5 linked regions of the Homo sapiens genome follow. The protein of the gene in region 1 purifies or fractionates together with the protein of each later gene. This does not show direct contact. Each region holds a gene or a part of one and is shown in the gene's direction. Other genes may lie near its edges. The genes, in order: ATG4A, MTPAP, WDR37, PACS1 and BTN1A1.

Region 1 (6,036 bases):
GCACATGAATCACCTTGAGAGCCTATTGGAGTGCAGGTTCAGTAGGTCTTGGGTGCGGCCTGAGTTTCTGCATTTCTAACTAGGTGGTGCTGATGCTGCTGGTCCACAGACCACACTTTGCATACCCAGGGCCTAAACACCTGGTTAGTGTTGAAGAGCATAAGTTAGAGAGTGATGTGGCCAGGAAAAGTTGGTACAGGACACCTGTTGCAGGGGTGGAATGGTCTGAGACTTGGCCTCAGGAAAGTTATGAGGTCAGATTGGTTGACAGACAAAGGAGAGCTACAGGAGTTACAAGGGAATGGCATGAGGGCACGTGCAAAGGACAGGGTGGAGATGGCCTTAGTTATCCTCCCCAACACATCTCCTCTTGGACATTCAGGGAGGTGAGGTGGGATGGGAACAGACACACGTGGCTTTGCATGCCAATCCCCCACTTGCTAGCTGTGTGACTTCAGGAAAAAGATATCAATATTCAGTCTCAGGTTCCTTTTATGTAAAATAGGGCTAATGCCTGACTCGCCCTGTTGTCATCTTACAGTAAAGTGTTCATCAAAGAGCCAGGCATATAGGACAGTCACTGAAAGGTGGCTGCACCTTGCTTTACCCCAATACCTATTTCCTTTGCCAGCCCCTTCTTCCTCTCTTTAGGTTGGGGGGTGTGGAGCGGGGCGTGGGGATTGCACAGCTGCCTCTGCTCTCTCTAATGCTGCCATCTATTGGTTGAGCCCAAGAATTACAGCTAAATGGAAAACGTGGAGCCTGTAAAGGCTTTTATTTTTCTAAGTATAAAACCTAGTGTTTGGAGTTCTGCAAAATCAGATGCCCTCTGTTCCTAAGCATTTGGGTTCAAAGAAAATGTTGCAAAAAATAGATTTCCAGTTGCTCATGCATGACTTAGTCTCTTCAGGCGGCTATAACAGAATAGTATAGACTAGGTGGCTTTATAAACAACAGAAATTTATGTCTCACTGTTCTGGAGGCTGGAGGTCCAAGATCCAGGCACTGGCAGATTTGGTGTCTGGTGAGAGCCCACTTCCAGGTTCATAGATGGCTGTTTTCTTGCTGCGTCCTCAAATGGTAGAAGAGGCAAAGGAGCTTTCTGGAGTCTCTTTTATGAGGGCACTAATACATTCATAGGGGCTCCACCCTCATGACTAAATCACCTCCCAAAGACCCCACTTCCTAATACCATCATACTGGGGGTTAGGATTTCAACATATGAATTTTAGGGAGACATAAACATTCAGTCCACAACAGTGTTTGAGGACAGCTTTGAAACAGATTAGAAAATAACTTTGGAGGAATCTCAGTGAATAGTGTGTGTGATTCCTGGGTGCCCTGGCCTCCCTATCCCAAGTTACCTACAGAGAATTTCTCCAAGTTGATGTAGCCCTCCTGTTTCTTGAGGCCACTGGGTCAGAGTAGCTTTTGTGAAGTTTGACTACTCATTAAAAAGATGTGGGCAATCCTCAGTTCTTTAATACCCCAAGACAGAGGTTCACATAGTGCCCATTTGCCTGTTAACTTTTATAAGTCCTTTGTGCAAACTTCACTTGAGGGCTTTAAGTCCCTCTGACTCCCCTTTTCTGACTCACACCCTTACTGTTTGAGGTTGAGTGGTCCAGATTGGCAGAATGTCTGAAGGGAGGGAAGAGATGCAAATTGCCATTTTCTAAATAGTTGTCCTGTTCCAGAGACTTCGCAAAGTATATTATCTCTCTGTCTACACATATATACACACACACACACACACATTTATACATATATATACATATATATACATTATATATATAAAATATATATATAAAATGTATTACATATACGTACATATACATATACAAAGTATTATATACATTTTACAAATATATAAAATGTATAAATGTATATATAAAATACATTGTATATATAAATAAATGTATATATAAAATACATTGTATATATAAATGTATATATAAAATAATATATAAATATATAACATAAATGTATATATAAAATATATATAAAATGTATTACATATACATACACAAAGTATTACATATACATTTTATATATATAATGTATTACATATACAAATACATACACAAAGTATTACATGTACATATACATATATACATATATATACATATATATACACATATATACATATATACACATATATACACATATATATACGTATATATATACATATATATACGTATATATACACATATATATACATATATACATATATATACATATATACGTGTATATATATACATATATATATATATATATATATATATATATATATATATCACTAAGGAATGGTGCCATATTGAGGGCTCAGTGTTGGTCTGTGCTGCTGGCAAATTGGGCACTCAGCAGGGGCTGTAGCCAGGTCAGCCTTGGTGAGTGGAAGTCCATGTTGCTGAACCCATGTGTAACCTCTATCCCTGCCACCATGGCCACTTTGTTCATGGGCCCATTGGGTGATGACACGGGTGGCTGAGGAAAAAGGCTGAGTGGTGTCCACAGAATGGGTCATCCTATCTACTTGATTATTAATCAAGAATACACACAATATTTCTGTGAGGTAGAGACTGTTATTTCTGTTTTACATGCAGTGAAACTAAGAGCTAAAATTAAGAGAGATTAAAAAGTTATTTCTTCAAGGTGATTCTGTTAGAAAGTGGTGAAGCCAAGAGTCGATCCCAATTTGATCATCTCTACCTACCACCTTCCATTGCTCCCCCAGGGCCCTCCTGCCCAGTGGGAAGCTGAGAGAGCTCTAGGTGTGGGAGGATATGGCCAGGATGACACTCTGGCCTTCAAATTTTGCCTGCTTAGAGAGAAGGAGATGTTGGTTCCTTGCACTTGGGTATAGGTTTCCACCTGGAGATCCATAGCATTAGCCCTGTCTCTGCAGGTGGTTGGTCAGCCTGCCTTTTCACTCCAGGTCTCACTGGAGACCTTTGTTTAGTCCCCAGATCATTTCTAGAGCTTTTTACATCTATTGTATATCTTTTTTTAAAAAATTTTGTTCCAGATTCAGGAGGTACATGTGTTTGTTTGTTACATGGCTATTACATGTGTAATGGTGTGGATTGGGCTTCTAGTATACCTGTCGCCCAAATATTGAGCATTGTACCCCAATGGATGATGATTAGATAAATAAAATGTGTTATATACACCATGGAATACTATGTGGCCATAAAAAGTAATGAAATCATGTCCTCTGAAGCAACATGGATGGAGCTGGAGGCCATTATCCTAAGTGTACTATATCTCTTATAAGCACTCTCAGAAATGATGCAGCTTGTGGCAGCTTGTGGCCAGGCGCAGTGGCTCACACTTGTAATCCCAGCACTTTAGGAGGCCAAGGCAGGTGGATCGCCTGAGCTCAGGAGTTCGAGACCAGCCTGGGCAACATGGTGAAATGCCGTCTATACCAAAAATACAAAAAATTCGCTGGATGTGGTGGCGCATGCCTATAGACCCAGCTACTTGGAAGGCTGGGATGGGGATCGCTTCCAAGCAGATCGCTTGAGCCCAGGAGGTCAAGGCTGCAGTGAGCCAAGATTGTGCCACTGCACTCCAGCCTGGGAGACAGATTGTATTAGTCAGGGTTCTCTAGAGGGCCAGAACTAATGGAATATATATACATATATATGTGTGAATATATATATGTGTGTGTGTGTATATAACATACATACACACACACACACACACATATATATGTAAAGGGGAGTTTATTAAGTATTAACTCACATGATCACAAAGTCCCACAATAGGCCATCTGCAGGCTGAGGAGCAAGGAGAGCCAGTCTGAGTTCCAAAACTGAAGAACTTGGAGTCTGATGTTTGAGGGCAGGAAGCATCCAGCATGGAGAAAGATGTAGGCTGGGAGGCTAGGCCCATCTCTCTTTTTCACATTTTTCTGCCTGCCACCCTGGCAGCTGGTTAGATTGTGCCCACCTGATTAAGAGTGGGTCTGCCTTTCCCAGCCCACTGATTCAAATATTAATCTGCTTTGGCAACACCCTCACAGGCACACCCAGGATCAGTACTTTGTCTCCTTCAATCCAATCAAGTTGACACTCAGTATTAGCCATCACAAGTCCACCCCTTGTCAACTTGAACCCATATACATATCCTGAGATCATACATCATCTTCAGATAAAGACAATAATAAGGTCATAATTTGCCTAACATAATACAACTATCCTTCGTACAACTGGAAACGCACCAATCCCCAACCCAAATACTATTACATGAACTTAATAATACTTAAATGCTGATGTGAAGTCAATAAATCTTATGTCACATGATAAAGGAGAAAGGAAATAAAATGAGAATATTTTCTTAGTACAAGTGTATACATGCACAAACATATTTTTAACAAAAGAAGGAGGAAATGTTCATGACAATTGCAGTCCTCGTTTCTGTAGCTGGTCACGTGGTCGTAGCTAGTATTGATGACTACCTACTTTTACTACCTATTCTGTATTCCCTTTGCCGTCAGTAAACACTTCAGCAGGTCATGTTTTTTTTCCTGGTGGAGTGACCCAAACCTTCATTCCTGAAGGGTCTGGGCCGTTTGTAGTCCTGCCTGGATTGGGCTGTTGTAGTTTCCCATTGACCTTAATCACAGGGCATGGTAATACTAAGAGACACCCAAATGGATCTCCTGTATTCCATGCATACTTTTTCTTACCTCCATTGTGGGGTAGTAGACTGATTTCATCTTGATAGTCCAAGTCAGTCACCCCAACCAACACTGTAACTCCCTTATTAGCCTGTTGATGTAAAGGGAAGAGGAGCCCAAAGTGTCCAGGTGGCAATCTTAACTTCCAGTTTAATGGAACTGTTGTGTCTCCTGATGGCAGCATTCCTTCCTCTGGAACTAAGAACTCTAGGCCAGCAGAACGTAATGTCGGGGGAACAGGAAGCAAAAATTTTGCTGGTGGATCACTGGGGCTGATGGTGAGTGGTGCCACTTCCACTTCCACTCCTTGATTCCTGGACCTGTGAATCCTGGCTATGAGAGAAAGAGTACCATATATTGAATGCTAATTCAGAGCTTACACAGCCTTCTGGAAAACTTTGCCCCAGCCCTACAAAGTATTGTCACCTAGTTGGCATTGTAATTGTAACTTCAAAATGAAATTCCACCATTCTATCAATCCAGCTGCTTCAGGCTGATGGGGAACATGGTAAGACCAGTGAATTCCATGAGAATGAGCTCACTGCCACACTTTCTTAGCCATAAAGTGAGTGCCTTGGTCAGAGTCTGTGTGGGATACCATGATGTTGGATAAGGCTGATGGGGAACATGGTAAGACCAGTGAATTCCATGAGAATGAGCCCACTGCCACACTTTCTTAGCCATAAAGTGAGTGCCTTGGTCAGAGCTGTGTGGAATACCATGAAGGTGGATAAGGCATTCTGTGAGTCCATGGATGGGAGTCTTGGCAGAAGCATTGCATACAGGATAGGTAAACCCATATGTGGACTAAGTGTTTATTCCAGTGAGGATAAATCTCTGCCCTTTCCGTGATGGAAGAAGCCCAGTATAATCAACCTGCCACCAGGTAGCTGGCTGATCACCCTGAGGAATGGTGCTATATTGAGGGCTCAGTGTTGGTCTCTGCTGCTGGCAAATTGGGCACTCAGCAGGGGCTGTAGCCAGGTCAGCCTTGGTGAGTGGAAGTCCATGTTGCTGAACCCGTGTGTAACCTCCATCCCTGCCACCATGGCCACTTTGTTCATGGGCCCATTGGGTGATGACATGGGTGGCTGGGGAAAGAGGCTGAGTGGTATCCACAGAATGGGTCATCCTATCTACTTGATTATTAAAATTCTCCTCTCCTGAGGTCACCCATTGGTGAGTACTCACATGGCATACAAATATCTTCACAGTTTTTGACCACTCAGAGAGGTCCATCCACATACCTCTTCCCCAAATTTGGCACCAATTTCCCAATCATGCTTCTTCCAAGTCCCTGACCATCCAGTCAAACCATTGACTATAGTCTATGAATTAGTATATAATCG
Region 2 (6,036 bases), on another chromosome or scaffold:
TTTTTTTTTGACATGGAGTCTCACTCTGTTGCCCAGGCTGGAGTGCAGTGGCATGATCTTGGGTCATTGCAACCTCCGTCTCTTGGGTTCAAGCGATTCTCCTGCCTCAGCCTTCCAAGTAGCTGGACTTACAGACACCTGCCACCACGCCTGGCTAATTTTTGTATTTTTAGTAGAGGCGAGGTTTCACCATGTTGGCCAGGCTGGTCTTGAACTCTTGACCTCAGGTGATCTGCCCACCTCCATGTCCCAAAGTGCTGGGATTACAAGCGTGAGCCACTGCGCCCGGCCCAGTGTTCCTTTTCTTCATCTACTTAAATTGAATAAAATTAATGCTATGTTAGAATCATATCATTTGTAAATTTTAAAGACTTGATATTTTGTAGCATTATGATAATTGTTTTAATATATGAGCTAAAATAGTATGTTAGATATATCGTGAAATGTGTTCTGTTTTTTCTTATGTTTTTGGTATAGGGTCTCTATGCTGTCGTAGAATTTTGCCAAAAGGAAAGCATAGGTTCACTGCAGAATGGGACTCATACTCCAAGCACGGCCATGGAGACTGCAATTCCATTCAGATCACGTTTCTTCAATCTGAAGTTGAAAAACCAGACTTCTGAACGGTCACGCGTACGGTCAAGTAATCAGTTGCCACGTTCAAACAAGCAGCTTTTTGAATTACTTTGTTATGCAGAAAGTGTAAGTTTTTAGGTGTACCTCAACTTTTAGAACTATGTATTTTTTTATGAACAATAAAGATTCCTGTAAAATGTTCAAGCTACATTATTGTTTAATGGGTATAGATCTTCAGTTTTACAAGGTGAAAAGAGTTACGGAGATGAATCGTGGTGGTGGATGCATAATGAGATGAAGGAAAGTTTTTTTCTATTTCTAGCTTTCTAAGAATGTCGTCATGCTCAACACATTGAGTAGATGTTGAGTTTTGACATTTGAGATGGTATTGATGACTGGCATATGGTCTTGAGATTGTATATGGTTCCTAATGTCTTTTTCTTTCCCCTCCTAATGTCTTAACGTAGTGAATTGTAGATTCACTGTAGATTTCCTCATGTCAAGTCATTCTTGCATTCACAGAATAAACCCTACTTAGTCAAGGTGTATTTACAAAAATGCATTATTACATTTGTCGTGCTAATATTTTTATTACAATTTTAATATCTCTATAAATAAATGGGATTGCTTTTAAAAATTCAAACTACAGGATATGTTGAATGAAAAGTGATAGTAATCCTTGTCTGCTCCTTCCCCGCCATGCCCCATTTGTACTTACAGGTAACCACATTCTTCTGAAGTTTTCGGCCTTTTGAACAGTTTAGGTTTTCTTTCTCTTTCCAGCATAATGACATAAAATTGTACATGGTTTTCTGTCAATTTTAAAATGTCTTCTTTCTGATTCTCTCTCTCTTTTTTTTTTTTTTTTTTTGAGATGGAGTCTCGCTCTTGCCCAGGCTGGAGTGCAGTGGCATGATCTTGGCTTACTGCAACTGCTCCCCGATTCAAGCAATTCTCATGCCTCAGCTGCCCAAGTAGCTGGGACTACAGGTGTGCACCACCACACCCAGCTAACTTTTGTATTTTTAGTAGTGACGGAGTTTCGCCACTTTGGCCAGGCTGGTCTCGAACTCCTGACCTCAGGTGATGTGCCCACTTCGGCCTCCCAAACTGCTGGGATTATAGGTGTGAGCCACTACGCCCGGCCCAAGATTCTGTCTCTTCTGTGTTCAAATATTGTTTGTATTTGTCTTGGTGTTTTTTTGTTTGTTTGTTTTTGTTTTTGTTTTGAGACGGACTCTTGCTCTGTCGCCCAGGCTGGAGTGCAGTGGCGTGATCTCAGCTCACTTCAAGCTCCACCTCCTGGGTTCACGCCATTCTCTTGCCTCAGCCTCTCAAGTAGCTGGGACTACAGGCGCCCACCACCATGCCCGGCTAATTTTTTGTATTTTTATTAGAGACGGGGTTTCACTGAGTTAGCCAGGATGGTCTCGATCTCCTGACCTTGTGATCCGCCCGCCTTGGCCTCCCAAAGTGCTGGGATTATAGGCGTGAGCCACTGCACCTGGCCTGTCTTGGTGTTTCTTACTCAGACTTGCCAGACCTTGCTAGTCTTTCCAAAGAATCAACTCATGGCTTTATTTATCAAAATATTATTTTCAAGGTTTAATTTTCTAATAAGAAAATTTTTGCTTCTAATCTATTTCCTTTACTTTTATTGTTATTATTATTATTTTGAGACAGAGTTTTGCTCTTGTTGCCCAGGCTGGAGTGCAATGGCCTGATCGTGGCTCACTGCAACCTCCGCCTCCCAGGTTCAAGCGATTCTCCTGCCTCAGCCTCCCAAGTAGCAGGGATTACAGGCACGCGCCATCACACCTGGCTAATTTTTTGTATTTTTAGTAGATTTGGGGTTTCACCACGTTGGCCAGGCTGGTCTCTAACTCCTGATCTCATGTGATCTGCCTGCCTTGGCCTCCCAAAGTGCTGGGATTACAGGCATGAGCCACCGAGCCCGGCCTCTTTTATTATTTTTGAGTTGAATGCTTAGTTCAGTTCAGTTCAGTTATGTTACGTTATGTTATGTTATGTTAATGTTATGTTGTTATGTTAATGTTATGTTGTTATGTTATGTTATGTTACGTTATTTTTTGAGGTGGAGTCTTGCTCTGTTGCCCAGGCTGGAGTGCAGTGGTGCAATCTCAGCTCACTGTAGCTGCATACTCCTGGACTCAAGTGACCCACCTCAGCCTTCTGAGTAGCTGAGACTACAGATGCATTCCACCATGCCCAGCTAGTTTTTGTATTTTTTTTTTTGGTAGAGTCAGGGTTTCATCACGTTGCCCAGGCTGGTCTCACTCCTGAGCTCAAGCGATCCTCCCGCCTTGGCCTCCCAGTAGTTCACAGGTGTGAGCCACTGTGCCCAGCCAGTTGATATTTTCAATGTTGGTTTCAAATAAGAGCATTTGAAGTTACGATTTTTTTTCACTTCAGATACTCCAGTACACAATTTCAGTATGTGATCATTTTAATGCCAGTCTTCTAGTGGATAGACAGGATTGTTATTCTGAGAAACTGAGAGGTCTTGGGCCTTCATTACTTGAGTATTTCTAGTTTTTCTTGCCCTTTAACATTGGTCTTTCATCCCTTTGAGTTTAAAATGTCTAACGTGGTTGTTTTAACCTCTTCTGGAGTACTTTACTACTTTCATTTTCTTAAAACAATACTTTATACTCATCGCTTACAAAGTTTTAATTCTAGCCAACTTTCATTTTGCTAGTGGCATTCCTCAGAGCTTTTTAAAAATTTTAAAATATTATATAATTTATTTCTTTAGTGAAATAGAGACGAGGTCCTGCTGTGTTGCTTAGGCTGATCTCAAACTCCTTGCCTCATATGATCCGCCTTGGCCTTCCAAAGTATTGAGATTACAGGCATGAGCCACCGCGCCTGGCCTTCTCAGTGGTTTTTAAAGAGTATTTTTTTTTGAGACGGAGTCTTGTTCTTGTTGCCCAGGCTGGAGTGCAATGGTGCGATCTTGGCTCACCACAACCTCTGCCTCCTGGGTTCAAGCGATTCTCCTGCCTCAGCCTCCTGAGTAGCTGGGATTACAGGTATGCGCCACCACGCCCGGCTTATTTTGTATTTTTAGTAGAGATTGGGTTTCTCCATGTTGGTCAGGCTGGTCGCGAAATTCCGGCCTCAGGTGATCCACCTGCCTTGGCCTCCCAAAATGTTGGGATTACAGGCGTGAGCCACTGCGCCAGGCTTTGCATATTTCTAAGGTAGGTCTTCAACGCCACCAAATCTTTGAAAGTAAAATGGTAACTTTTTATGCGACCTGTACTTTTTCTCTATTTTGTTGGTTTTGTTTCGGCTAGCTAGATAGACGATCAGCTGAACACTCTCTTGAAGGAGTTCCAGCTAACAGAGGAGAACACTAAGCTCCGATATCTCACCTGTTCTCTTATTGAAGACATGGCCGCCGCGTATTTTCCAGACTGCATAGTCAGACCCTTTGGCTCCTCAGTCAACACTTTTGGGAAGTTAGGATGTGATTTGGACATGTTTTTGGATCTAGATGAAACCAGAAACCTCAGCGCTCACAAGGTAAGTCTATTTCTTTTGACCACTATAATCATGTAAAGTTAAGAAAGTATAAAAAGAAAAATCTTTGAACTTAATAAAATAGAACTGTTGATTTCTAAACTTATTAAACATTGTGGTTAAAGAATAAGGTGTATTTGTTATTGATTCTTTGGTGAAGTCTTTCTTTGTATTGTTCTACTATGTGATCATTTTTGTGAATATTCTGTAGATATGCAATCAAATAGTTAATTGTTTTCAAGTGTTCAGAAATTTTTCAGTTAAGTCAAAGTTACCTATTGTGTTATTCAAATTATGTATCTTAACTAATTTTTTCTTTTTAATCTTGTGATCTAGTTACTGAGATGTTTTTACATCTCATGATTCTTGGTTTTGTTAATTTCTCTTTAAAATTCTTTTGATTTTTGTTTTATCCAAAGGCTATATTAGCTACATATAGGTATACGATCATCATATTTCCTTATTAGATTGTTTTATTATTATATCCCTCATACATGCTTTATTCATCTCTATAAATACTTTTTTCTTAAGTTCTATTTTATTTGTTAATATGGCCGCTTGGTAGTTGTCTCACATGTCTTCTGTTTCTTTATTTTCAGCCTTTATATATGTTATTTTAGTTTGGGTGTATCTCTTATAAATAGCAGTATGCTTTTACTCCAGTCTATCAGTCTTTGAGTTCAATATGTTTATTGTTACTGCTGATAATTCTTGGACTAATTTCTCCTGTTTTATTTTTTATTTCCTATTTTCTGTGCTTTTGCTTTTCACTTTCTTTTATTTATTTATTTTTTTTGAGGCTGAGTCTCACTCTGTCGCCCAGCCTGGAGTGCAATGGTGCAATCTCGGCTCACTGCAACCTCCACCTCCCGGGTTCAAGTGATTTCTCCTGCCTCAGCCTCCTGAGTAGCTGGGATTACAGGCGCCTGCTACCATGCCCAGCTGATTTTTGTATTTTAGTAGAGACGGGGTTTTACCTCCTTGGTCAGGCTGGTTTTGAACTCCTGACCTCAGGTGATCCACACCCCTCGGCCTCCTAAAGTGCTGGGATTACAGGCATGGGCCACTTCCCAGCAGCTTTTCACTTTCTTTCTTCCTTTTATTGGATTACTCCTGCTTTATTCCTGCACTTTCCTCCTTACCCTTTTTTTCTCTTTCAAGTTTGGATATTATTTCTTCCATTTATGTTCTCTTTAACACGATGTCTAATGGTAAAATTAACCAGTGTCTCTTCCATCCTCCCAAACAATATAAATGATGTCTTAATTTAATTACAGTGTTGAAAAGGCTATTTATTTTTATTTTTATTTTTTTGTTGGAGATAGAGTCTCTTGCTCTGTTGCCTAGGCTGAAGTACGGTGACGTGATCTAGGCTCACAGCAACTTCCGCCTTCCAAGTTCAAACAATTCTCCTGTCTCAGCCTCCCAAGTAGCTGGGACTGCAGGCAGGGGCCACCATGCCCGGCTAATTTTTTTGTTTTAGTAGAGACAGGGTTTCACGTATTGGTCAGGCTGGTCTTGAACTCCTGACCTCAGGTGATCCATCCACCTCAGCCTCCCAAAAGTGCTGGGATTACAGGCGTGAGTCACCACACGCGGCCAAGGCTATGTGTTTTTATAAAATGTTTAGTTTCTATGGCTGTATCTTTCCTTACATCTTTCAAACTAGTAGTGAACATCAGACTTTATGTGGATGTCCAGTTGATATTTCAAACAATATTTTGAGACAACTTATATTCATCTTCCCACAAATGTTCTTTCTAAGTTCTTACAAAAGTTCTATATGTTTCACATGTTAATTAGTGGCATTTTAGCTTTGCTAACCATTCTTTTAATTCTGCTTCTAAGTTGTTATCTTTTGTATTCATAGTTTCACAGTCCCTTATAAACTCTCACTTAGATTATTGTAACTAC
Region 3 (6,574 bases), on another chromosome or scaffold:
CTCTCAGCCTTCAGAAAACTGAAGAGAGTTAGGGCCTTACTCTGGATTAGGCTTTATCAGAATATTGTGGCTGGTTTAATCTATACAGACCACTCAGAGTTTCTCCATATCAGCAATAAAGCTGTTTTATTTTCTTACCATTTGTGTATTCACTGTAGGAGCACTTCAAATTTCCTTCAAGAACTTTTCCTTTGCATTCACGACTTAGCTGTTTCAACATGCCTTCCTCACCATGCTTAATCATTAATCATTTCTAGTTTTGATTTAAAGTAAGAGATGTGCAACTCATTCTTTTATGAAACAGTAGCCATTTTAGGGCTATTAATTGCCTGATTTTTTTTTTTTTTTGAGTCAGGGTCTTGCTTTGCTGCCCATGCTGAAGTGCAGTGGCGTGATCACAGCTCACTGCAGCCTCGAACTCCTAGGCTCAAGCAATCCTCCTGCTTCAGTCTCCCAAGTAGCTGGGACTACAGGCATGAGCCACCACCATGCCTGGCCCCTAATTTCAGTATTGCTGTGTCTCAAGGATAGGGAGGTCTGAGCAGAAGGAGAGAGATAGGGAGGCAGCTGGTCAGTGCAGTGGTCAGAACACATAAAACATTTATCGACTCAGTTTGCTGTCTTATATAGGGGTGGTTCATGGTGCCCCCCAAGCAATTATGACAGTAATATCAAAGATCACTAATCACAGATCACTATAACTGATTTAATAACGGAAACATTCCAAGAATTACCAAAATGTGAGAGAGACATGAAGTGAGCACATACTGTTAGAAAGATGGTGCTGACAGACTTGCTCCATGCAGGGCTGCCACAAACCTCCACTTTGTAAGAAACATATGATACCTGTGAAGTGCAATAAAGTGATACACATGAAAACAGTTGTGCCTGTTACATGACATATATACACACATATATATAACTTGAGAATTTAGGAAGCGACATGTCAAACAGCTTATAACACTATAGTGTACTATCCAAGTGTTTGAGACACAGTTAAAATAATCAGTAATGAGGACAATGACAGAATACCTAGTAAATCTTAATTCCCTATCAAACCATGCGCAAAAATGAGTCTTAGTAAATTCAGCATTGTTGCCCTATGTCAGGGACAAAGTACATGTATTTTGCATAGATGGACATGTGACAAAATAGAAATTGGTTTTCTGAGACAGGATTCTCCACAGCTTCTGCAGGAGGGAGAATGTAACTGGATACCAGGATTGCAATCATAACCTTTTATAATTTCGGCTAGTTTTGTGTCTTTTAAAAAAATTACATTGGATAGTTATTTCAGGATACAGTGTGTTATGGGTTAAATTGTGTCCCCCTTTCAAATTCATGTGTTAAAGACCTCACTTCCAGTATTTTATAATGTGACCTTATTTGGAAACAGGGTTGTTGTGGATATGATTAGTTAACATGAGGTCATATTAAAGTAGCGTCTACTGTACTCCAATATGACTGATGTCCTCATAAAAAGAACGCTAAGTGTGCAGACAGACACGGACATGGAAAACGTCATGTGAAGACTGGCGGGGGCATGCTGCCACAAGCCAAGGAATGCCTAGACGCTGAGATGCATTAACAGGCTCCCATCACAGCTCTCAGAAGGAATCAACCCTGCCAATACCTTGATTTGGGACTTCCAGTCAGACCTCTGACAATAAATTTGTTTAAGCTGCCTAGTTTGCAGTATTTTGTTCCTGCAGCCCTAGCACATCAACAGTGAAAAGAATATGGATTCTGATGCCAGCCTTTAGTCTTTGCCCTGCTGCACGATTATTTTTGACTTTTGACGAGTAATTTCCACATTCTCATGCTTAAAATTCAATTTAGAATAACTTTTACTTTATTGGATTCCTTTGGGGATTAAATTAGTTACAAAAGATGTAAAGCGACTGATCCTCAAAATGATTTCTTTCCCTTGTTTTGTGACATGTCATGCTCTCAGTTATTTTCAGTGACTTTTATGGAATCCTAAATATATCAACTTAAAAAATTACATTAGCGATATTCTTGGTGTTACCTGACTGTGGTGCGGTCCAGAAAAATAAAACCACCTGTTAGAATGCGGGTTAATTAGATGGGACACTGCGATTTACAAAGCTTTCTATTTGCTGCCATGCCCAGTACAATGTCTTTGCATACTAGGTACTAAATAAAATTATGTTACTTAAATGTCACAACCTCTAAAAGTTTAAAAAATGACTTCTCTAAAAACTCAAATATTTTTTTCCTTGGCGTTCCTCTTACAGAATTGTTTTTAGTGATAAAGTTTTATTAATATACTTAATGCAGAAATAACTTCACTTCTTTTTTTTTTTTGGTAATCTGGATCCCCTAAATAGAATGCTAAATTTGTTTCTTGTGCAACAAACAAGTTACCACTTCTGACTCTTCATCTTGAGCTTCCTTATTTTTTTTTGGAGACGGAGGCTCGCTCTGTCCCAGGCTGGAGTGCAGAGGCGCGATCTCGGCTCACTGCAACCTCCGCCTCCCGGGTTCAAGCGATTCTCCTGCCTCAGCCTTCCGAGTAGCAGGGGTTACAGGCGCGCGCCGCCACGCCCGGCTAGTTTTTGTATTTTTAGTAAAGACAGGGTTTCACCATGTTGGCCAGGCTGGTCTCGACCTCCTAATCTCGTGATACGTCGGCCTCGGCCTCCCAAAGTGTTGGGATTACAGGCGTGAGCCACCGCGCCTGGCCTTGAGCTTCCTTTTTAAAGGAAGGAGCAGGAATGTTAACCTACACAGAAAAAAAAAATGCTTTCACGCTCTTGATTTACTCTAGGTGGGCTTCAAATGCGCGGTTAGCGCTTTCTGTAGAGCGTTGAGACGGCTGTTTACGTAAAGACCATCATGCGACGTTTCCAACCTAGATTCTAAGAAAAAAGCGGCCCAAGTCCCACCTTTCGCAGGGAACAGCTGATTCTGTTTTTCCTTCCCAGCCAATGGTGATCAAAAGCTTCAGGACGCTGGTGAGTCACTGCGGAGGAGCCGAACACTGACCGCGCCGTCCCCGCCAGGCTCCCGCGCGGCCGGCACCGCGGCCCTGAGCGCAGGCGGCCCCGGGTCTCAGGCCTCAGGCGGACCGCGCCCCGGGCTCGCAGCCCTCCCGCCCCGGCTGCCGGGCTACGGGGCAGATGGACTCGGAGCGCCCCGCCGGTGAGTAGCTACGACCCCCGAGGCCACCTCCCGCGAACCGCTCGGCGGCAGGAGTACGTGACCAAGGGTGGGGGCGTTGGCCCAGCAGCCGAAGGGGTCTTCAGCGCGCCCAGACCCCTCGGGGCTGCGGGGCGGAAGCCGGGGCGTGACTTCCGGCGCCGCCGGGTGTGGGGCGGAGGTGTGGGGCGGCTTCCGGAGAACCCAGCGGCGCGGGACTGGGGCGGGACTTCCGGCGACACCGGAAGTGCATTAGCGCCAGGTTGGGGTTGTGGGGTCGCGTCAGTGCGGAGACAGCGGTGTCCTGCGCGTCTTCGGGTCAGTACGGGGGGCCGCGTCGTAGGGACTCACTGGCGGTGCGCGACCTGGGCTGGCTCCGGGGGTGGCGGGCGCAGCTGCTGTGACAGGTGAGTGCCGCCATCTTCCTACCTGTCAGGCGCCGAGTCGTTCCCCGGATGCCCCGAAGAGGAGTCGGGACACTGCAGGGCTCAAGGGGGTGCAGGGGCAGTCGGGGCATAGTGGCGGATGGGGTGCAGGTGGGCTTGGAATGCAGAGGGTCCGTGGTGGTGCAGGAGGGGTCGGGTCCCTGGAGGACCCGTGGCGGTGCAGGAAGGGCCGTGGTGCAGAAGGGTTCAGGGTGCAAGAGAAGTCGGGGCGCAGGAGTAGTCCGTGGCGGTGCCAGAGGGACCAGGGTGCGGGAGGGATGGGGGCCCGGGGCGGTGCAGAAGATGTCGGAGTCCAGGAAGAGTCGGGGCGCTGGAGGGGTTGGGGGCAGAAGGGTTCGGCCCGGGGTCTCTCCCCGCCCCCTTTGCTTCGGCCTGGGCATCCCGGGGAAGTGCGTCTCCAGGGAAGCACTTGGGAGGCCCTTCAGAGAGGAGAATGGCCTTTCTTCTCTCCAAAGAGTGGGGATGGTCGGCTTCAAGAAGGGTGGTGAGTGTGGAGTGACGGATGCTGAAGTGATTAACACAGCGCCATGATATTGTTCCCCTTTTGAAGACTTCCTTTTCCTTCCCTTCCCCCTGAAAGCAGCCACCGCTGGAGGGAAACATTTTAAGACAGCTGTTCACCGGAATAACACAAGAGCAACAATAATAATGTACTCATTTACTAAACCAAGTTGAATAAATACATTTTTCCAGGTTGTGAGTGAAAATAGCTTAAGGTCTGCCAGGTTTTTAGAGATTTTGTCATTTAACTTAAACGCTAAAACATTCGTCCCTTGAAGCGGATACCATTATAGAAAAGTGTTAATTGCTTGGAAGTTTCATTTATTGAAGTTCAAGTGTTTTTCTCTTAAATTCAGTATGTTGGCCTGTGAGTTACGGTCATAAAAGTATTGCAGGAATTATTTACCTCTGAATGAGAAAGCTCAAGATAGTTATATCTCCAGGAACTTTCTTCGTCTTCTGAACTTCCCCCAACCCCAGCAGACACACACACTGTTCTGGTTACTTTCCTGATCAAATTCGAGTCTTTCAAAATAGCTTTTGATATGTCCCAGGAGTTAAACACGGTATGTAAATATGAACTCACCAATGTGGAACAAATGGAGTGATCTGTTATCCCCTGGGTTTAGACGCTGCCTTTCTATTAATACTGCTCACAGGAGACAGAGTAGGGACTCGTGTGCACTGGCCACGTCTCAACAGCAGTGTGACCTTGGGCAAGGCCTTCCTAAGTCCCGACTCCCTGTCCTCTAACATGGTGTTCATATCAGCCTCATTTTCTTACTGGGAAGGTTACGTTATGTAATATATGCCAGCCATTTTTGCAAAGTGCTGTATACAGGAGATCTTGAGTGAGTGTGTTTCCCTCCTCCTCTTTTTGGGTAGCTATGTTAGGCTGTTCACTTTGGGCATTTGCCCTGAACTAAAATCCCTAAGTCCCTTTCCCCAAGGTGAAACTAAGATAGAGTTTTCATATTTATCCTGTCTTATTCTTTTCAGGGAAAAGATTTTACATCTGTTGAATTTCATCCTTGGTTTAAAGTTGTTCTTTTAACTACTGAGATCTTTTGAAAATCTTGATGGCTATTTATCTGATTAATGGTATTTCCTAATTGATTGTCATCCACAGAATTGATGGTGTATGTATTCCATGCCTTCATTTCGTCAATGACAAAACATTTTAAGCAGGTTAATACTGATGACAGATTTCTGAGGTTGCCTGTAGAGACCATTCTCTTCCTCGATATTGCTCAGAAGTTGAATTTGGTGTCTCAGCCCACTAGGAATTCGTCTAACAGTGTTATTACGATAAAATGTTACTACAAACTTGATTAAACTTCTGGTGGAAATTCCATCACATTTTATGCAATTTTCAATTTATTTCTCCAATTTATTTTTAATGCCACATGGACATTATATTCCTTAACCATTCTTTTGCATGTGATTAACATTTGTGAAATTAACCACTTAAGCAAGTGTTTTTGCTTTGATGAAAGAAAAATGTTTAAAATCCTACTGGATATGAAACTGAAAGTAATGTTTTGTGTTTTTTGTTTCAAATGAAAGTGTAAATTAAGAATTTGTTGGCAGGGCGTGGTGGCTCATGCCTGTAATCCCAGCACTTTGGGAAGCCGAGGTGGGCAGATCACCTGAGGTCAGCAGTCCAAGACCACCCTGGCCAACATGGTGAAGTCCCGTCTCTACTAAAAATACAAAAATCAGCTGGGCATGGTGGCGGGCACTTGTAGTCCCAGCTACTCAGGAGGCTGAAGCAGGAGAATCACTTGAACTCAGGAGGCAGAAGTTGCGGTTAGCCGAGATCACGCCACTGCCCTCCAGCCTGGGGAGACAGAGCGAGATTCTGTGTCAAAAAGAAAAGAATTTGTCGTATTGCTGTTTCAAGCTACTTTGGTTATGTTATCTGCCTTCCTCAAATTATACACACTTAGGAGAATGATAATTTCTATAGCTACAAATTAATTAATATTGGAAATATTGAAAAGAATCTGGCCAGGCGCAGTGGCTCATGCCTGTAATCCCAGCACTTTGGGAGGCTGGGTCAGGTGAATCATGAGGTCAGGAGTTCAAGACCAGCCTGGCCAGGATGGTGAAACCCCGTATCTACTGAAAATACAAAAAATTAGCCAGGCGTGGTGGTGGGTGCTTGTAACCCCAACTACTCAGGAGGCTGAGGCAGAGAATTGGTTGAACCCGGGAGGTGGAGGTTGCAGTGGGTCGAGATCGCGCCACTGCACTCCAACCTGGGCGACAGAGCGAGACTCTGTCTCAAAAAATATATATATAAAAGAATCTTTTGAGAAAGAGCAGAAAGCTAAGTGTTCATTGATGCTGTTTAATATTACAGCATTTCTGTCACGCAGGCTGGAGTGCAGCGGCATGATCTCAGCTCACCACTGCCTCCACCTCCCAGGGTGGAGCAATTCTCGTGCCTCAGCCTCCAGGGT
Region 4 (6,036 bases), on another chromosome or scaffold:
CTTAAGGAACAGAGCATTATCGCTTCTGTTGAAGCTCTCAGGGTGCCCCTTCCTGACTGTCTCCCCTCTTCCTTCTACAAAGGTAAACACTATTTTGAATTGTGTTTATCATTTCCCTTGTTAGAAAAAAATTAGTTTTACTACATAATGCATCTCTATATATTTTATAGTTCTGAATGTTCTTGAAGTTTGTGTACATGGTGTCATCCTGTATGTGTTCTGTGACTTGATTGGTTTTTTTATTTTTTTTTAAATCAGCATTAGGTTTGTGAGAATCATCCATGTGGTATGGTAGCCATAGTTTAAATATTTTCATGATGGGTAGTATTCTGTTGTGTGAATGAATATACCGTAATTCTCTTGAATATGTAGGTTGTTTCCTGTTTAACACCCACAGTAATGCACACATTTCCCCCCAGGACTCCTAGTGCTCTTGTGCAGAAGTTTCTTTAGGTTGTATTCATATGGAGGGGTGGGATTGCCGCTCGCAGGGTATAGATCTGGGACTTCACTAGGCAAAAGTAGATTGTTTCCACAGGCTGCTTCCACTCTGTGTTTCCACATCACTTAACAGATTTACACATTGTTTTTTTTTTCTCTGTCCTTTCTCTAGGGAAATCAGGAGCCACATTAATTTAGTTTGCTGTGGCCAGATCCATAGCACAACACCAAGCTCAAGCGAGAGTTGAGTATGTGATGGTGTTCCTCTCTTGATCCTAAGCAGGCCTCTCTCTTTCTATACAGGCCCATCTATCGCTGAAGTATCCTAACCCACCTCTTTCACACATAGAAACACTGTGTTCCTTCCTACGTGGGTCCAGTCTTTCCCATTTCTCCTTCACTTTCATGCCTGTGTTTGGTGACGTTTGGGCAGCTGCCTTCTCCATCTCGTTAGGTTGAAAAGGCGCGAGCCTACTGGCAAGGAGCTGCAGCAGAGGGGCGTGAATGAAATCATTGACTGCTGTTGATGTTTGGTCTGCCCCTAGGTCTTTTGGTCACTGCAAAGTCCACGTAATAAATTATTAGCCTAAGAAACAGCCAGGCATCCTGATCAAATGTATAATTATTATGCTAACTTGCTGTGAGAGGCTTAGGCGGACTTATTTTTACATTCCGGGAGTGTGCAGTTACGTCACGTTTACTGACCAGTCCTTGAGCTTGTCCACTGTCCTGCTCCGACATTGTTTTTCATCCATCACCCTTGTACCTCCTCACTCCTTGTGGAACACATGTGCTCTTTGAGCATTTTGCAGGCCAGAATAACACTCTGTGGGGAGAAAATGGCCTGCCATTGGTCTTTCCAATTATTAGAGTCATCTGGTTAATTTGAGGTCTCCTGGGTGTCCTTGTTCATGTTGTTTAGAATATATAGGCAACATGCAGCACTCTGTGGAGGGATTAACATTCTTGTCTCATGTAACTCAAACGGGACACAAATATATGAGATACATGCCCCTTAGAAATGTAAACATGATTGTGGATCTAAGGTTAGGTGTGCATAAGAATGTCATGGGATTTGGTCTCTTAGGGCAGAGAAGAGGGGCTCGAACAGTACAGTGTTAGGAAGGTCCTGCTGCTTTTCTTGATGCCTGTCAAAATATAATTTTCTTTTGAAAAAAATACCGTTTCCTGTATTAGATATTTAAATAAAGAGCAGTGTAGTTGTTCTTCAGGTAGGTGTCTGCTCTTATTTAACATCTGTTAAATTCCCCCAGAATACATAGTACTTTTGAAAAACTTTATATAGGTGAATAGCTTACTCACAGCTGGTTTTAAAAGAATGAAATTGTTCTGTTGATCACATTTTTCACCAGCATTTTTTGTTTTTTTTCTTTAGATGGAGTCTTGCTCTGTCATCCAGGCTACAGTGTAGTGGCACAGTCATAGCTCACTGCAGCCTCCAACTCCTGGGCTCAGCAATCCTCCAGCCTCAGCCTCCCAAGTAGCTGGGACTATAGGCATGTGACATCACACCTGGCTTTTTTTTTTTTTTTTTTTTTTTTTTTAAAAACAGGGTCTCACTATGTTGCCCAGGCTGGTCTTGAACTCCTTGCTTCAAACTGTCCTCCTACCTCGGACTCCCAAAGTGCTGAGATTACAGGTGTGAGCCACTGTGCCCAGCCTTTTACCAGCATTTTTTTTAAAGACAAAATGATTAATATATGTCCATGATTAGAAATTTGAGCAGTATGGAAAGATGGAAAGCACAAAGGAAAAAGCCCCCAGTCCATCCCTCTTCTCACTTCCCAGAGGTAATCACTGTGAAATACAGTTGGCTTTTAAGATTCTGTTACAAAAAGGTAGTTTTGCTATAGTTCCTTTATCTTTTATGAAATTCAAGCTTTAGAAGTTAGCATTGTTTTCCCTTCATGCTAAGTAGTACTTCCTCTACTATGGTCCAGTATGGCATGGACCGTGGTGCAGGGTTATGGGGACCAGGTGGCATGCTGCTTGATGTTAAAGGAAGGGTGTTAGAGCCTCATTGTTGATCCCTTCCCTTCTGCCTTTGTATGGTGAGGTTTCCCTGATGTTCTTTTCTTTTTGTGTTGCTGTAAGTAGGAGAGGCAGAAAAATTACTAAATTTTACAAGCATTCAAAATTTCCTCAGTGGCATAAAAGTGATTATTAAGAGATGAAATGTGCTCTGCTGTATCATTCGCAAACCATATCCAAAGCCCATTTGCATACCCTTATGTGTATGTGAACTTAGGGTAGGAGTTGGCAGTTATCAGTCACTTTTCTCCTTAGGTCACATTTTTTTTAAGTGGGTGCTGAGGTCAAGCCTTAATGGACAAAAGCGTTGGAATCACAGAAGGTGGCCATAGCTGAGTTGGCATGACTGGTCTGCAGCAGAAGTGTTACTTTCATGAAAACGCTTGGGGGCATTTGCCCCTTTAACCACAGAAGCACTATACGAGCCAAGATATACTACTCTATCTTCTTACTATATACTAGGACAAACTCTTCCATGCATTAGTTTAATTTTATTAATTTTTTTTTGGTGTTTTTTTTTTTTTTTTTTTGAGATGGAGTCTCGCTCTGTCGCCCAGGCTGGAGTGCAGTGGTGCAATCTCGGCTCACTGCAAGCTCCGCCTCCCAGGTTCGCTCCATTCTCCTGCCTCAGCCTCCCGAGTAGCTGGGACTACAGGCGCCTGCCACCACACCTGGCTAATTTTTTGTATTTTTTTGTACAGATGGCGTTTCACTGTGTTAGCCAGGATGGTCTCGATCTCCTGAGCTTGTGATCTGCCCGCCTTGGCCTTCCAAAGTGCTGGGATTACAGGCGTGAGCCACCATGCCCAGCCTTTGTTTTGTTTTTTTGAGACACAGTCTTGCTTTTTTACTCAGGTTGGAGTGCAGTGGCACAATCACGGCTCATTGCAACCTAGACCTCCTGGGCTCAAGCATTCCTCTCACCTCAGCCTCCTGAGTAGCTGGGACCATAGGCACTTGCCACCATGCCAGGCTGATTTTAAGATTTTTTTGTAGAGATGGGGTCTTGCTGTGTTGCCCAGGCTGGTCTCGAACTCCTGGGCTCAAGTGATCCTCCCGCCTCAGTCTCTCGAAGTACTGGGATACAGGTGTGAACCACTGTGCCTGGCCCATGCCTTAGTTTTTTCATCTTTATGGGAATACTTTTACTTACCATCCATTCTTAGATGTGGATGAAATATATATAAAATTGGATCTATAGAAGCATGGGAGAAAGTATTTCTTAAATTATAGGTATAAAGTAAATGTAATTGATCAAATAAGAAAGACCTGATGAAATTTCTATTACTACCCTAGCATTAAAAGTCCTTTTTTTTTTTTTTTTTTTGAGACGGAGTCTCGCTCTGTCCCCCGGCTGGAATGCAGTGGCGCGATCTGGCTCACTGTAAGCTCTGCCTCCTGGGTTCACGCCATTCTCCTGCCTCAGCCTGCCAAGTAGCTAGGACTGCAGGTGCCCGCCACCACGCCCAGCTAATTTTTTATATTTTTAGTAGAGACGGGGTTTTACCATGTTAGCCAGGATGCTCTCGATCTCCTGACCTCGTGATCCACCTGCCTTGGCCTTCCAAAGTGCTGGGATTACAGACGTGAGCCACCGCGCTCAGCCACATTAAAAGTCTTAAAAGCATGTTTGTACCTTAGGAGATTTGAATTTCACATTGTGAGTGTTGTAATAGAATATCATCTCTATCAGGGTAATAGTATCCATCGTCCCTGTGGAAGCTCAGATTACATGAGTTAGAAAGATAATGACTTTCACAGAGTCCATTTTACATGTATTGATTTACAGATCTTTTGGACACCTTAGCGGTTATGTGATTTCTTTCTAAACTAGTTTTCCAATTTCTTAGCTAAGCCAGTAAGTTGTCACTGTTGTTGTAGGTGCTGGAATGAGGGCGGGTACGCCTCAGAAAATGTTAGAGCTGCGTCTTTTCACTACCTCAGTTCAGGAGGCTTGTCCAGTTTGGACTTGGACTTTTTTTTTTTTTGAGACAGGGTCTTGTTCTGTTGCCCAGGCTGGAGTGCAATGGTGCGATCTCGGCTCACTGCAACCTCCGCCTCCCAGGATTCTTGAGCCTCAGCCTCCCAGGTAGCTGGGACTATAGGCGCACGCCACCACACCCAGCACATTTTTGTATTTTTAGTAGAGACGGGGTTTCCCCATGTTGGCCAGGCTGGTTTCGAACTTCTGACCTCAAGTGATCCGGCGGCCTCGGCCTCCCAAAGTGCTGGGATTACAGATGTGAGCCACTGTGCCTGGACTGGCCTGGACTTGAAGGTGTTGATGTAGATGCCAGCATGCATCTACATGGTGGGTCCTCTGAAATTTGGTGTTGGCCTGGCTTGCACCCATGTTGTCACATTCCGGAAATTCCGTGGGAATCTAGCGTAGCTGTGGGAATGATTTGCCAACGTTGGTCTTCTTCCAGCACAGGGCTTGAGGTGATATTGAGGGCTCTTGAGGAAAGTCAGAGTTTGGAGTTGGACTTAGAACTTCTTTCAGAGGGCCATCAAGCAAGGTGGGCAGTCTCTTAGGTTGGCAAGCACTGACAGGGTCTTCTTTGTGGACCTAGATAGAGGAATAACCAGCTTCCAAAGGTTTTAGAGACCAAGATATGCACCAGCTCTAGAGTGTTACCCCTTATAGATGTTCACAGGGCAGTCAGCTGGACCTGTGTTCCCCGTTATCTCATTAAAAACCAGAGAATGGCTTTGGTCACAACTCAGGGATCGCCACTTAGGCAGACCTGCACCCTGCCTCTTGACCTTGGGAATCGCAGTAGAACAGACAGCTAACCAATGAAACACATCTAGAAAACTTCTAGAAAATAGTTTATTAAAACATTCCAAGGCTGGGCGTGGTGGCTCATGCCTATCATCCCAGCACTTTGGGAGGCTGAGGCGGAAGGGTCACTTGAGCCCAGGAGTTTGAGACCAGCCTAGACAACATGGCAACCCCTCTCCACAAAAAATAAACAAAATTAGCCAGGTGTGGTGGCGTGCGCCTGTGGTCCCAGCTACTCAGGAGGCTGAGGTGGGAAGAGCACTTGAGCTCTGGAGGTCGAGGCTTCAGTGAGCCATGATCTCGCCCCTGTACTCTAGCCTGGGCAACAGAGTAAGACCCTGTCTCAAACAAAAATGGGTGAATAGAGAATGTTCTAAGTCATTACTTTCCTTGTGTTGAGGTAGATGGTGAGGCATAGGTGATAAAATAGTGTTGATGGCAGGTTTGTTTATTTAATTTTGTGCAGATCCTTTTAAATTGTAAGTTTGTTTTTTTTTTTTTTTTGAGACGGAGTTTTGCTCTTGTCACCTAGGCTGGAGTGTAAAGGCGCAGTCTCGGCTCACGGAAACCTCCGCCTCCGAGGTTCAAGCAATTCTCCTGCCTCAGCCTCCCGAGTAGCTGGGATTCCAGGCATGCACCACCATGCATGGATAATTTTGTATTTTTAGTAGAGACGGGGTTTCACCATGTTGGCCAGGCTGGTCTCGAACTCCTGACCTCAGGTGATTCACCTACCTCAGCCTCCCAAGGTGCTGGGA
Region 5 (6,036 bases), on another chromosome or scaffold:
AGGTCAGGAGATCGAGACCATACTGGCCAACATGGTGAAACCCCGCCTCTACTAAAAATACAAAAAAATTAGCCAGGCATGGTGGCGGGTGCCTGTAGTCCCAGCTACTTGGGAGGCTGAAGCAGGAGAATGGTGTGAACCCGGGAGGCAGAGCTTGCAGTGAGCTGAGATTGCGCCACTGAACTCCACTCCAGCCTGGGTGACAGAGCGAGACTGCATCTCAAAAAAAAAAAAAAAGACTAAGTTATTTTTCTACTTTTGCCATTTCCACCCATACTCACTTCTCCTTCCTATCCCATGCTAGGGCTCTGTCTAGGTTTCCAGGGTCCTCAGGGAAGAAAATCCTCTCATTATTCCCCAGATACTGTCTCTGGTTCAGGCAGAAACCTTTCCTTATTCTTTGGTCAATGAGTCCCATTCTGTTACATACAGAGGCACACTTCCCCTTCCTTATTTACCTCCTTCATCCTCTTGGCTCCCATTCTGCACTGATAGTTAAGGAAGAATTTCCATAATGACATGAATTGGTCCATTATATTTATTATTTCACAGGTCCTGTCCCAAAATTACTCGTCATTTCTCTCTTTCTCTGCTGACTCCTGCTTGAAGTCAATTTTTTTCTGAAAAGTTTAGAGTGGCATTGGAGTGACTATTTTTTTGCTATATGAGGGATGAGAGTGGTCCAGGCCATCACCTCTTCTACCCTCCTTTGGAATGTGGAGAAAAGCTGGACTTGCTCAGAATTTCTCAACTAATGTCCTTCTTGGGGATTTTGTTTTAGCTTCCTCCCTCCCAAGGCTGACTCCCTGGATAGTGGCTGTGGCTGTCATCCTGATGGTTCTAGGACTTCTCACCATTGGGTCCATATTTTTCACTTGGAGACTATACAACGAAAGACCCAGAGAGAGGAGGAATGAATTCAGCTCTAAAGGTAAACCATAGAATCCACAAGGGCTACGTGTCAGGAGTGCTTCAGAGGCAGGCTGGATCCAAGTCCTTTAGAATGACTTATTTTAGGATGACAGGAAGATATTTGAGGCTGGGCATGGTGGCTCACGCCTGTAATCCCAGCGGTTTGGGAAGCCGAGGTAGGTGGATCATCTGAGGTCAGGAGTTCGAGATCAGCCCGGCCAACATGGCAAAACTCCATCTCGACTAAAAATACAAAAATTAGCCAGGCTTATTGGTGAGTGCCTGTAATCCCAGCTACTCGGGAGGCTGAGGCAGGAGAATTGCTTGAACCCAGGAGGTGGAGGTTGCAGTAAGCCGAGATCGTGCCATTGCACTCTAGCCTGAGCGACAGAATAAGACTCCGTCTCAAAAAAAGTAGAAGATACTTGATTCTAGAATTCTGAAAATTGGAGGAAATCATAAGGGTCCTGAAGTCACAGATGCCAATATGAAGAAGCACAGAGGATTGGGGCATAGGCAGAGTCTAATCAAGATATCAGGGCTGATGTTTACTCACTACCCACCCTCAGACCCTACTCCCACTTTTAACTCAATTGCCCAGTACCAATCTTATTATTAAAGATCTGAGGCCGGGCGCAGTGGCTCATGCCCGTAGTAATCTTAGCACTTTGGGAGGCCGAGATGGGTGGAACACATGAGGCCAGGAGTTCAAGACCAGACTGGACAACATGGTGAAACCCCGTCTCTAATGAAAATACAAAATTTAGCCAGGGTCGTGGCCCACACCTGTAGTCCCATCTACTCGGGAGGCTGAGGCGGGAGAATGGCTTGAACCTGGGAGATGGAGGTTACAGTGAGCAGAGATTGCACCACTGCACTCCAGACTGGGCAACAGAATGAGATTCTATAAAAAAAAAATCTGATCCCAAGCCAGTTCCAATATGTAGGAACTTCCTGCATCTTTCTTCGAAAACAAAGCAAAACAAAATCCTTGTTCTTGATTTATTGGCAATGCTTCAATATTCAAATAGTCATGAATTAAACAGTTCCTCCTTTGTGTGTTTCCCACACGAGTTTTGTCCCCTCCTTTACGTCCACTATAGAAAGCCATTGAGGTATTTTTGTTTGTTTTCCAGAGAGACTCCTGGAAGAACTCAGTAAGTTCTGTCTTCTTGTTATTTCACCCACAGAGTTTTCTCTCTCTTATTATATAACCTGTCAATGACTATCTTTCTCTTTTGTTGCAGAATGGAAAAAGGCTACCTTGCATGCAGGTCAGTGGCTCTGAACTTCTCTAGGGCTCTGAGGCTCTATCCCCTAGGAATTCAAAGTGCTATGATACTTGGAAATGAAAACACTAACACTTTAGTGATGAGGACAGGAAGGGAAACGGTGATGACAGATGGCCTCAACAGTTTCTGTGAGGCACATAGAGAACCCTTGGAAGATGGCACTTCCGACAGAGTCCCATTAGGCCCTAGGCACAGTTAGCTCTTACATCACCCTCTGGCTGCTGGTAAGGGGGGATCCTGTGGTGAATGGAGACCCCTGAGCAGGCCAAACATCCCCCCACCTCCAGAAGACCTGTCAACTCCTACAACAGTGTTCTGTTTCTTAGGAGAAGGAAAGACAGTCCTGCAACCTGTAATATTCACTGATGTCAGACCTGCTGTTTCTTTCTCTCCAGTTGATGTGACTCTGGACCCAGACACAGCTCATCCCCACCTCTTTCTTTATGAGGATTCAAAATCTGTTCGACTGGAAGATTCACGTCAGAAACTGCCTGAGAAAACAGAGAGATTTGACTCCTGGCCCTGTGTGTTGGGCCGTGAGACCTTCACCTCAGGAAGGCATTACTGGGAGGTGGAGGTGGGAGACAGGACTGACTGGGCAATCGGCGTGTGTAGGGAGAATGTGATGAAGAAAGGATTTGACCCCATGACTCCTGAGAATGGGTTCTGGGCTGTAGAGTTGTATGGAAATGGGTACTGGGCCCTCACTCCTCTCCGGACCCCTCTCCCATTGGCAGGGCCCCCACGCCGGGTTGGGATTTTCCTAGACTATGAATCAGGAGACATCTCCTTCTACAACATGAATGATGGATCTGATATCTATACTTTCTCCAATGTCACTTTCTCTGGCCCCCTCCGGCCCTTCTTTTGCCTATGGTCTAGCGGTAAAAAGCCCCTGACCATCTGCCCAATTGCTGATGGGCCTGAGAGGGTCACAGTCATTGCTAATGCCCAGGACCTTTCTAAGGAGATCCCATTGTCCCCCATGGGGGAGGACTCTGCCCCTAGGGATGCAGACACTCTCCATTCTAAGCTAATCCCTACCCAACCCAGCCAAGGGGCACCTTAAGGAATATCTCAGCTCATCTGTTTTCCTTTCCTCTAACCCCTCTCCTCCATAGCCTTCTGAGGCTTCACCTGCTAGCTTTACCCAGTCTGTTTCTTCCTGTTGGGTGGCAATTAATTAATCCTGTGAAGGTTACATTGCTGCTGCTAGAGAGGGTGGGGATTGCACCTTCCAAATCTGTTTCTGTACCAATATTTGGGGGATGGAGGGGTGACTCAAACTGCTTCTAGTGTTCTCCTAATCCCTTAAGACTAGAACCTATAGGAAACTACTTGGAGCAAACTCAAAGGACAGATTAGGGATCGAGATTGGGTCAGGTTAGCATGGGGTTGTGGTTGAAATATCTTGGTATCCAGGATAAGGGTATGTGGAAAAACAGGCTTTAGGCAAGTGGAAAATTCAAAATGTGCTGTGAAAGGACAATCTCAGGCTGAAATCCCATAAAGGAACTTGGAGGGAATATTATGATGGAGGGAAGTGAGGTGAATCCAGGCACATGATGAACACCTGGCTCATCCATAGAGTTTTCACAGCCTATATCGCAAATTTTCTAAGCCACGTCCTATAGGACAGAGGAGACTGGCCCCACTTCTATGGGTCTGAGCTGTGGAAAAGGGAGAGCAGAGAGGAACTGAGATGAGCAGGGATGAAGGGTCAGGCAGAAAGCGTGATAGAGGAGAGAATTTTTGACAAAACTCAAAAGTTGTTTGCACAGCTGTTCTTTGTACCCTGTTCCTTTCTCTGCGCCCTCCTGTTTCTCCCTTGCCTGGAAGTCATTCCACCCTCAATTTGTTGATCCACAAGTTTCCAGTTGTCCTCTTCTTTTTGTTATAGCATCTCTCTATTTCAAAGACATTCCTAGAAGTCATCCTTCAGTGATATCACCACTTGCTCAGTCACCATCTCAACCTTATGTCACCTCAGCCCTCATCTCAATGCCCAAACCCCTTACACACACCTTCAGTTAGCTTCAACTGCCTCCGTTTCCACACTGTGCACCTTTCACTTTCCCTACCCAGCTTTCCTACATGCTGCCTCTCCTCAGGGTCCCCTGAATGCTGCATCATTGTGTTCAGTGCAGCTGGACTGATTGCACCTGTGTATTTGCCCCTGAGCACTTTCCTTTACACATGTGGCTTGTCTTGCCAATAGACTCCAGGCTTATACCTTCCATTTCCATCGTATTCTCCAGTTTCCAGGATAGACGTTGCTCATCGTCTTTACCTAATAAATAAGTTTGTCTGATTGCTGAAAGCAACCTCTTAACCTTTCTTTTTTAATATCAACTGAAACAAAATAAAACATAGGGCAAGAAACCTGCATGGGAATGCAGCTGTCTAAAGCTTTGCCATTGTATGTGGTCTAAGACCCATCCCTAGGCCTGATGGCAGTGGGCTCACCAGGGCAGGTGCACATGGGGGCTGATGCCTCATGAGGGAACAACTGCTTACCAGGGTCTTCAAGCAGGAATACAGAATCTCAACTCAGGAACAATTTTTTATTAGTCCATCCTCATATTTCTGTAAAGAAATACCTGAGACTGGGTAATTTATAAAGATAAGAAGTTTAGGCCGGGCACGGTGGCTCATGCCTGTAATCCCAGCACTTTGGAAGGCCGAGGCGGGTGGATCACGAGGTCAGGAGTTTGAAACCAGCCTGACAAACATGGTGAAACCCCGTCTCTACTAAAAACACAAAAATTAGCCGGGTGTGGTGGCAGGCACCCGTAATCCCAGCTGCTCAGAAGGCTGAGGCAGGAGAATCACTTGAACCCGGGAGGCAGAGGTTGCAGTGAGCTGAGATCGCGCCACTGCACTCCAGCCTGGGTGACAGAGCAAGACTCCATTTAAAAAAAAAAAAAAAAAAAAGATAAGAAGTTTAATTGGCTCATAGTTATGTAGGCATGACAGCTTCTGCTCAGCTTCTGGGGAGGCCTCAGAAAATTTACAATCATGGCAGAAGGCGAAGGGGAAGCAGGCACATCTTACATGGCCATGGCAGAAGGAAGACAGCAGCAGGGACGGGGGAGGAGAGAGGGGGGAGCGGGGGATGTGCTACACACTCTTAAACAATCAGATGTCATAATTAGTCACTCATTCACTATCACAAAAATAGCATTGGCCGGGCATGGTGGCTCACGCCTGTAATCCCAGCACTTTAGAAGGCCGAGGCAGGCAGATCACCTGAGGTCAGGAGTTCAAGACCAGCCTAACATGGTGAAACCCCGTCTCTACTAAAAATACCAAAAAAATTAGCCGGGCTTGGTGGCACATGCCTGTAGTCCCAGCTACTTGGGAGGCTGAGGCAGGAGAATCGGTTGAACCTGGGAGGCAGAGGTTGCAGTGAGCCGAGATCATGCCACTCACTTCACTCCAGCCTAGGCGACAGAGAGAGACTCTGTCTCCCAAAAAAATAGCACTGAGGGGATGGTGCTAAACCACTCATGAGAAACCGCCCCCATGATCTAATTACCTCCCAACAGGCTGCACCTCCAACATTAGGGATTACAATTGAACATGGGATTTGGGTGGGGACTCAGATCCAAACTATATCAAATAATATCCAAAGATCACCCACCCCATTTTTTTTCTTTTAATTACAAGGCCTTAACATTAAAGATTTCCCAAATATTTCCTCCTCTTGCAAAAGTACTGTTAAAGAGTTGGCTTCACTTACCTATACCATTGACCAGGTTACCTTTACAGTAGTAGAAATGAAGTTCACCACCCAAACAGGGGCAGAGGGTAGGTAGCCATTGGCACTCTG

The links.
Region 2: the proteins of ATG4A (region 1) and MTPAP purify together in Homo sapiens (affinity purification with mass spectrometry; one large-scale study listed by BioGRID and IntAct). This does not show direct contact.
Region 3: the proteins of ATG4A (region 1) and WDR37 purify together in Homo sapiens (affinity purification with mass spectrometry; one large-scale study listed by BioGRID and IntAct). This does not show direct contact.
Region 4: the proteins of ATG4A (region 1) and PACS1 purify together in Homo sapiens (affinity purification with mass spectrometry; one large-scale study listed by BioGRID and IntAct). This does not show direct contact.
Region 5: the proteins of ATG4A (region 1) and BTN1A1 purify together in Homo sapiens (affinity purification with mass spectrometry; one large-scale study listed by BioGRID and IntAct). This does not show direct contact.

Annotation. Positions count from the first base shown.
Region 1 is NC_000023.11:108,138,813-108,144,848, forward strand, and holds part of ATG4A (cysteine protease ATG4A), read left to right. Parts: intron 1-6,036. UniProt on the Homo sapiens protein: Cysteine protease that plays a key role in autophagy by mediating both proteolytic activation and delipidation of ATG8 family proteins.
Region 2 is NC_000010.11:30,334,892-30,340,927, reverse strand, and holds part of MTPAP (poly(A) RNA polymerase, mitochondrial precursor), read left to right. Parts: intron 1-477; coding exon 478-702; intron 703-3,900; coding exon 3,901-4,125; intron 4,126-6,036. UniProt on the Homo sapiens protein: Polymerase that creates the 3' poly(A) tail of mitochondrial transcripts. Can use all four nucleotides, but has higher activity with ATP and UTP (in vitro). Plays a role in replication-dependent histone mRNA degradation.
Region 3 is NC_000010.11:1,053,400-1,059,973, forward strand, and holds the start of WDR37 (WD repeat-containing protein 37), read left to right. Parts: upstream 1-2,985; 5' UTR 2,986-3,569; intron 3,570-6,574. UniProt on the Homo sapiens protein: Required for normal ER Ca2+ handling in lymphocytes. Together with PACS1, it plays an essential role in stabilizing peripheral lymphocyte populations.
Region 4 is NC_000011.10:66,071,938-66,077,973, forward strand, and holds part of PACS1 (phosphofurin acidic cluster sorting protein 1), read left to right. Parts: intron 1-6,036. UniProt on the Homo sapiens protein: Coat protein that is involved in the localization of trans-Golgi network (TGN) membrane proteins that contain acidic cluster sorting motifs.
Region 5 is NC_000006.12:26,505,902-26,511,937, forward strand, and holds the end of BTN1A1 (butyrophilin subfamily 1 member A1 precursor), read left to right. Parts: intron 1-781; coding exon 782-931; intron 932-2,048; coding exon 2,049-2,069; intron 2,070-2,159; coding exon 2,160-2,186; intron 2,187-2,599; coding exon 2,600-3,273; 3' UTR 3,274-4,524; downstream 4,525-6,036. UniProt on the Homo sapiens protein: May function in the secretion of milk-fat droplets. May act as a specific membrane-associated receptor for the association of cytoplasmic droplets with the apical plasma membrane.